2 separate regions of the Homo sapiens genome follow, and region 2 is linked to region 1. The links come from fine-mapping of genetic effects on gene expression. A gene starts in region 1. The other region holds a variant in brackets. All regions are shown on one strand. Distances are between the middles of the regions.

What was found. PIP is the estimated chance that this variant, and not a neighbour inherited with it, causes the effect.
Region 2: its variant is fine-mapped to the expression of LINGO1 in hypothalamus (GTEx, PIP 0.98).

What each region holds. Positions count from the first base shown.
Region 1 is chr15:77,630,977-77,635,315 of GRCh38, forward strand. LINGO1 (leucine rich repeat and Ig domain containing 1) reads right to left here and starts at 1,936. Exons shown (of 2, transcript NM_032808.7): 1 at 1,334-1,936. The coding sequence starts at 1,339. RefSeq lists enhancers at 2,755-3,318, 2,760-2,889.
Region 2 is chr15:77,138,546-77,142,930 of GRCh38, forward strand. The region is part of intron 8 of PEAK1 (pseudopodium enriched atypical kinase 1); the gene reads right to left. Among named protein-coding and RNA genes, the nearest start is that of TSPAN3, 70 kb to the left of the region's middle. The variant T/C (reference allele first, on the strand shown) is at 2,622.

The DNA of each region.
Region 1 (4,339 bases):
CAGAGGCGTGAGGATTTTGAGCTCCTCCCTGGCTTATACAAGGACAAAGGGTCTGGGAGCAGCTGGCCCTCTTCTCCTCACTGACACTCTGCGCTGGATCTGGGGAAGCCCCAGGCTCTCTGCCGCCTGGGTGTCCCGGCTCATTGCTCCCTGGGCATGGGAGGCACCAGTGCTGAAGCCACTGGCATAATGACCAACAGGGTTGAGCCCAGAGCCGCGGGCCAGGCTGGGCTATGCGCCCTCTGGCTGCCCAAACCAAGCAGAGGACTGAGGGAGGGCTGGGCGAGCAGGAAGGGGCTGTCCAGATGCCACAGCCCCTACCTCAGGGCCTCCTGCACTCCCACCCGCTCAGGGCAGAGCTCTTCCCATCCTCTCAGGCCCCCTTCTGCCCCACCCCAACCCCAAGGCCTCTGAGAACAAAGAGGAGGTGCAGGCACAGTCAGGCTGGACCAGGCTGGGCTGCGACCCCAGCAGGAACCGGGAGGGGCTGCCCACTGGCCTGGCCCCACCCCTCCTTCTCAAAGTGGGATCCGCCCGGAGGGTCACATCTCCTGGCATGCCTTGAGAGCAGAGAGCCCACAGCCCACCCCGAAAAGGGTGTGAGGGGGAGCAGGAGGCTCCCTCCTTACCTCCCTCTTCTCAGCTGGTTCCCACCTCCCACCCGCTCTGCCTTAGAATGAAAAGTGGGGCAAGAGGAGGTGAGAAGCCCGGGCTGAACGCAGACAAAGGGGAGGCCCCTAAAGCGTTCCTGGGCGCTCCCGGTCCCCAACTCCCTTCCTTCCACTCTCCCTACTCCCCATCTCCTTTTCACTGGGCAGGAGCTGGAAAGGGGCGATGCTTGTGTGTGGTGGGGAGCTGCCATCCAGGCTGGAGCTTGTGGAGAAACCCAGCCCCTGACCTGTGTCCACCAGCTAGGGAGTGTCTGGTGCTGGTGGGGGCTGCCTGGGGGTACCTGGGGTCCACGAAGGGAGGTACCCACCCAGGGCTGAGCAGGGGGCTTACCCTCTAGAGTGACCAATACTCAGAATGGGAGGGGGGACAGGAAGGGGAGACCAGAGCAGGTCTGGGACACCCGTGGGGGCCCCTCCCCAGCTCCAGGCTCCCAGCTTACAAACCCGGAATTTGTTGGGGTTGGAGAGAGGGGAGGTGGAAAAGGAAGAATTTTCATTTCTGAGGCTTGAGGGGAAATCAGGCCTATGACCCCAAAGGAGGTCTGGGTGGCACCGAGGTGCCCTGCAACCCCAGGAGGGCGCAGCCAGGGCCGATGGCGGCCCCCAGGGGCACTCGCCGCGGGGCTGCCCGCTCGGGGCTCGGCCGCGGCCGCCTGGCTCACCTGCATCTCGGGCGCGCCTTCGGTCCGCTCGGCTCGGTCACCAATCGCATGTCTCTCCAGCCGGCCCGACCAGGCCCCAGCCCCTGCCCAGCCCCCTCCTCCGTTTCCTCCTCCTCCGACACCTCCGCCCGGCAGTCCGCGCGCCCTCGCGGGGCTGGCTGTCCGTCTGTCCGCCCCGCGCGGGCGGGAGCCGAGCCGGAGCCGGGGCCGGGGCTCGGGAGTGGGGAGGCGGGAGGCCGCGGCCCCGGCGGGCGGATGGGCGGGCGCGCTCAGGCCGCGGGACAGGGGCTGCGCGAGCCTGCTTCTGCCCCCTGGGCCGGCCCGGAGCCGCCGCCGCCGCCTCTGCCGCTGGGGCCGGGGTCGAGGCCGGGCGCGCTCCGCCGCGGGGCCGGGGCCGGCGGGCAGCGGCCGCGCATGCTGCTCGGCGCCCCGCGTCGGGAGAGGGGCCGGAGCGGCGCGGGTGGGGACTCCGCGCCCTCCGGGGCCGGGACCAGGACCCACCGCCGCCGCCGCCGCCTGCGCTGTCGCCCGCCGCCCGCTCCGGCTCCCGCGCCGGCTCCCGCTCGGGCTCCGCGCTCTGCAGCGGCGCGGGGAGGGAGCACTAGGAGCGAGCCAGGGAGGGAGGAGGGATCGAGGGAGGAGGGAGCGAGTGAGCCGCGGGAGCCGGGCGGGGGAGGAGAAGGCGCGGCCGCAAAACCTGGTGATGGTGGTGGTGGGGTGGGGGGTGGTTCGTCTCCTTTCAGCGGAGGGGGCGGAGAGCGAGGGGCGCCCCAGCCGCTGCCCTGCACGCTTAGGGCAGCGAAACAGGCAGGGGTGCGCAGGCGAGGGGCGCACCAGCCAGGCGCTCCAGCTCTGCACACGGCCGCGCCCCTCCGGGTCCGGGGCTCTGGGCGAGTCCCGGGCCAGCCGGGTGTCGGGGAGTCCGGCGTGCGGTCCTCCCTGGGTGTATGCGCGCACACCGTTGTGTGTGATTTTTGTGTTGCCACATGCGTGTGCATGTGAGCGCGCGAGTGTGTTTACACGTGTTAACTGGGCTGTGGACGAACACACGCACGAGGACGGACAGGGCTCCCTACACGAACAGGGTTGTTTGGAGGGCGGCATGGGGAGGCCGACCGGGAGCCCCCGTCCTGGCCCTGTCCCCTCCTCTCGAAAGTCCGCGAGGCTAGAGGGCCCACATTCTAGCGCGGGAGGGCGAGGCAGGCAGAATGGGAAGCTCCAGGGGACGGCGAGGAAGCCGCGCTGGCCCGGCAGCTCTACCCAGGAGCCGGGGTCCCCGCCCAGCCTGGCTTCCTGTCCAGCAGAGGGCGGCAGGCCTCTCTGGCCCGCTCCGTCCGGAGGCCCTGCACCCAGTGGCCAGCAGAGGGCAGCGCAGAGCCTCCGCCTGGGCTTGACTGTTCCCTCCTCCCGGAATGGTCCCGGGGATCCTCGGCTGGGGCCACAACTTCAGACGGGCCCAAGGAATGGGACCTCTCCTCGGAGATCCAGATCCTCCTTGATCCTCAGATACAGAAACTAGGCCAGCAGGGATGTCTTGGCAAAGCCTGCAGAGTAGGTTACCACCCTCAGGACCTCACCTTTTTCCCTATACTACCCCCTCCATCTCCTTGAAGCCAGACGCCCTTTACCACCAAGCCAGTTTTATTAGAATAACCATCAATGCTGACACCGCCCGGCACGGCCATCCCTCCTCCCCTGCTGGGAACAACCCATTAGCACATGAATACTCCTAATAGCTTGAGTCCACAGGGGCAGCTGAGGCTGGGGGAGGGGATCTAGCCCAAAGCCTCTCGGATTCTGGGGCAGACGCTGGAATCCCAGTTCCAGTGACACCCCCTCTCCCAGGAAGCCTGCGCAACATCATTGCAGAGATGCCTGGTTGCCACGGAGGGACCTCTCCCCACCCCCAACAGCACCTTGTTTCTCGCTGTTCAGCCTCACACACAGCCCAAAGGCTTGCACAGACCTTCTGTTCCAGCTGCACCATTTCTGGGTACTTCTCAGTCTCTCTGGCACACCGTTGCTCTGGACAGTCCTGTCTGGAGCACTTTCTCCTGTCTCCTATGTCTATGCCCATCCTCAACCTAGGCCTAGCTAGAGTCCCTCCTAGCAGGCGTCCATGCTATGCTCTACTGTGAACTGTACGTTCACCCTCCAGCAACTCTGGGGGAGGCACTATTGTTCCCCTGTGACAGAGGGAGGGAAGCCCAGGCCCAGAGAGGTTCCAGGCTCTGCCCATGGTCACACAGCCAGCAAGCCACGGAAAGGGAACTGGACTCGTCTTCTATGGCTGAATGGACCAGCAGGGGGCAGGCTCGGCAGAAGGACTTACAGGTGGGAGGTGAAGCAGGGAGGCCAGCACAGGAGTCCCCCTCCCTGCCAGAGCCCAGCGCAGGCGACTCCCCGGTCCCTCAACTCCGCGCTGCCTGGACCCCTCCCCAGACTCCCCAGCCCCCCCACCCCGGCTGTTTGTGAGCTACCCGTGCGCTCCCGCCCTCCCGCGCCGCCTCCTCCCACCAGCCCGACAGGAATAGACGCTCGCTGGCTCCTGCGTAAAGGCTCCGCCAGGCACCCGGCGGGCGCGCAGACCCGCTGGGGGGCGGGGGCGGGGGCGAGGGCTATTCCTGGTGCGGTGACTGACGCAGGCAAGGCGCGGCCACCACATCTCTCCGCCCCCGACTCACCTGCTCCCTGCCTCAGTGATCTCGGCGGAGAAATGGGGGAGAGCCCACTCATTCCACCCCGCTAACCCCCAGGTGCTACCGGAGGAAGCTGGGGTCCTAGGGTGGGGTATTTTGGTGCCCACAATGATCCCTCCGCGCCTCGGAGGCAGCAGGGATGACCACGGAGCTGTGTCTGGGAGGAAGAGCCCCTTGGCCTCGGTTCTCCACTGTCAATGGCATCCAAGCCATTCCCCTTTCCCTTTGTCTCCAAAAGACATGACCCCTCCCAGCTCTCCCTGTTTTATTCCAATGGAAACGACGGGGAGCTTTGGGGGAACAACTT
Region 2 (4,385 bases), 490 kb before region 1:
ATACACTGTACACTATTTCAAAATATTTTTTCTTTGGGCCAGGCACGGTGGCTTATGCCTATAATCCCAGCACTTTGGAAGGCCAAGGTGGGTGGACCACTTGAGGCCAGGAGTTTGAGACCAGCCTGGCCAACATGGAAACCGTGTCTGTACTAAAAATACAAAAATTAGCCAGGCATGGTGGCGCATGCCTATAGTCCCAGCTACTCAGGAGGCTGACGTAGGAGAATCATTTGAACCTGGGAGGCGGAGGTTGCAGTGAGCTGAGATCATACCACTGCACTCCAGCCTGGGTGACAGAGCGAGACTCTGTCTCAAAAAAAAAAAAAAAATTGTTTTTTCTTTGTGTCTTTATGCTACAAATCTTTCCCTATTTAAACAAAACTTTTTTTTTTATAAACTTTTTTGTTAAAAACGAAGACACAAACACACATATTACTAGTCCTAACCCCTGGTACATGTGAATGTGACCTTATTTGGAAATAAAGTCTTTGTAGATGTAATCAAGTTAAGATGAGGTCATTAGAGTGGGCCCTAATCCAGTATGACTGGTGTCCTTATAAGAAAAAGCACCATGTGAAGACAGGGACAATGATGACAAAGGCCTACACAGGGTCAAGAATATCAATATCACGGTCTTCCACCTCCACATCCTGTCCCAGTGGCAGGTCTTCAGGGGCAGTAACACACATGGAGCTGTCATCTCCTAAGATAACAATGCCTTCTTCTGGTATACCTCCTGAAGGACATGCCTGAGGCTGTTTTACAGTTTTTTAAAAAATAAGTAGGAGTACACTTTAAAGTTATGGTAATAGTACAGAAAATGCACAAACCAGTAACTCAGTAGTTTATCACCAAGTATTATGTACTATACATAATTGTATGTGCTATACTTTTATGACTGGCAGTGCAGTAGGTTTGTTTACACCAGCATCACCACAAACACGTGAGTAATGCCTTGCGCTGTGATGTCACAATGGCTATGTCACTAGGTAACAGGAGTTTTTCAGCTCCATCATAATCCTATGAGACCAGTGTTGTTTGTGCAGTCCATTGTTGACCAAAACATCATTATATAGCACATGACTATATCCATTTCCCATGCACACTACTTTCTTCAAGAATATCTAAGAATTTATATAAGCTACAGCAATATATATTGCAAACTCAAGGACCTCTTTTCTCCACCCATGTCATGTAGTAATATTTTTATAAGTAATAGAACAATATTAAATATAAACAAACAACAACACACATATATATACACATATAATATATATATAAATTGTGTCTATATGTATATATTTAGAGGGAGGGAGGGGGAGAGAGAGAGCAAGAGAGTAAGAGAAGAGAAAAAATATGAGAATGCTAAGCTTCAAGGCGGCCAGAGCTTTTGTTTTATTCACTGCTGTAATCTCTGTGCCAAGAACAAGGTCTAGATAGAATCAACAATAACAACTTCTTGAATGAAGGAATAAATATTTACTACTGAAAGACAGAAAGTAGTAAAATTGTATAGATATCTATAATAAGGAAAGAAATTGAATTAGTATTTTAAAAAATTCCCACAAAGAAAACCCAGGACCAGATGGCTTCACTGATGAATTCTACCAAATGTTTAAAGAAGTATTAATACCAATCCTTTGAAAACTTTTCCAAAAAATAGAACAGGAGGAAGGAATGCTTCCCAACTTGAATTCAATGGAGCCAATATTACCTAAATACTAAAACTAGACAAAGACATAAAAAGAAAACTAGAGACTGTCTTTTATGAATACAGATGTGAAAATCTACACAATATGCTAGCAAACCGAATCCAGCAACATATAAAAAAGGATTATACACCACAACAAGGTGGGATTTATTCCAGGAATGCAAGGTTGGTTTAACATCTGAAAATCAATCAATGTAATATACCATGCCAATGGAATAAAGGGGGAAAAAAGCTCACATAATCACCTTAATAGATGCAGAAAAAACATTTGATAAAACCAAACACCTTTCCATAATAATAATACTCAATGAACTAGAAACAGAAGAGAACATCCTCAACCTGACAAAGGAAAGGGCATCTTTGTAAAAGAGCTAACATCATACTTAATGATAAAAGACTGGAAATTTCTCCTGTAATATCAGGAACAAGACAAGGATTTGCGTTCTTGCCATTTCTTTTTTTTTCTTTTTCTTTGTGTCTTTTTTTTTTTTCCCAGACAGGGTCTTCCTTTGTCACCCAGGCTGGAGTGCAGTGGCACAATCTCGGCTCACTGCAGCCTTGACCTCCCAGGCTCAAGTGATCCTTCCACCTCAGTCCCCCAAGTAGCCAGGACTACTATTTTTCATAGAGACAGGGTTTTGCCATGTTGCTCAGGCTGGTCTCAAACTCCTGAGCTCAAGTGACCTGCCTGCCTTGGCCTCCCAAAGTGATGGGATTACAGGTGTGAGCCACTGCACCTCACCCATTTCTATTCTACGTTGTACAGGAGGTTCTAGTCAGGGATATTAGGAAAGAAAAAGAGATAAAGACATCCAGATTGTAAAGAGGAAAGTAAAACTATCTCATCATTCACAGATAATATAATCGTGTATATTGAGAAGCGTAGCGAATCCACACACAAAAAAAC[T/C]ATTAGAATGAATATACCAGTTCAGCAAGTTTACAGGATACAAGATCAACATACAAAAACCAATTCATTTCTATACATTATAAATGAATGATCCAAAATAAAATTAAGAAGACAATTCTATTTACAACACCATCAAAAAGGATAAAGTAACCAGAAATAAACCTAACAAAACTAGTGTAAGACTTGTACTTTGAAAACTATAAAACATCGCTGAAAGAAACTAAAAAGCAAATGGAAAGATATCTTATGCTCATGGATCAGAGACTTTATATTGTTAAAAGGGAAATATTCCCAAAATTGATCTACAGATTTAATGTAATCCCTATCAAAATTCCAGTTAGACTTCTTGCAGAAACTGGCAGGCTCATCCTAAAATTCATATGGAAATAGAAGAAACCTAGAGTGGTCAAAGTCTTTAAAAAGAATAAAGTTGGAAAAGTTACACTTTCCAACTCCAACTTATTACAAAATTATAGTAATCAAGAGTACGTGGTACTGGCGTAAGAATAGAAATATAGATGAATGAAATATATTTGAGAGCGCAGAAGTGAACACTTATATTTAAGGCCAACTGATTTTTGACAAGATTGCCAAAACAATTCAACAGGGAAAGAACAGTTTCAAGCAAAATAATGCTATTGAATCCCTACCTCACACTATACACAAAAATTAACTAAAAATGTATGAAAAATTTAAATATAAGAGCTAAAACTAAAAACTCTTAGAAAAAACGTAGGAATAAATCTTTGCAACCTTGGGTTAGGTAATGGTTTCTTAGATATGATACCTAAAGTATAAGTAACAAAAGAAAAAGTAGATTGGAAGTCAATAAAAATTATAAACTTTTATGCTTCAAAGGACATCTTTAAGAAAGTAAAAAAGACAACTCACAGAATGGGAGAAAATATGTTCAAATTACATATCTGATAAGAGACTTATATTCAGAATATATAAGGAACTCTTTTGAAAAAGATAAATAACCCAAGTAAAAATGGGTAAAAGATTTGCATAGCTATTTCTTCAAAGAAGATATATAAATGGCCAGTGTGTGTGGAAAGATGTTTGGCATCATCACTCATGAGGTAAATGCAAACTGAGACATCATTTCACATCTACTAGGTTAGCTGTAATAAAACACACAGGCAAGTGTTGGTGAGGATGTGGAGAAATTCAAATGCTTATACATTGCTAGTAGGAATCTAAAATGGTGCCACCATCTTGGAAAATATTTTGGTAGTTCCTCAAAAAGTTAAACATACAGTTACTATTTGACCCAGCATTTCGACTCCTGGGTATATACCCAAGACAACTGAAAACATGTCCACCAAAACTTTATATGCAAATGTTCATAAGCAGCAGCATTTATAATAGCCAAAAAGTAGAAACAAACCAGATGTCCATCACCTGATGAATGGATAAATTAAATGTGGTACACCCATACAATTGACTATTATTCAGGCATAAGAGGAGTGAAGTACTGATGTATGTATGCTAAAACATGGAAAAACCTTGAAAACATGGAAAAACCTTGAAAACATTATGCTAAGTGAGAGAAGTCAGTCAAAAATGACCACATATTATATGATTCCACTTATATGAAATTTCCAGAAATATATAAAGGCATAGAGACAGAAAGTAGATTAGCTGTTGTAAGGGGCTGGGGGAAGGGGAGAATGGACAGTGACTGCTAATGGGTTTCTGTTTGGGATGATGAAAATGCTCTGAAATTAGACATTAGTGATGCTTGCAAAATTCTGTGAATAT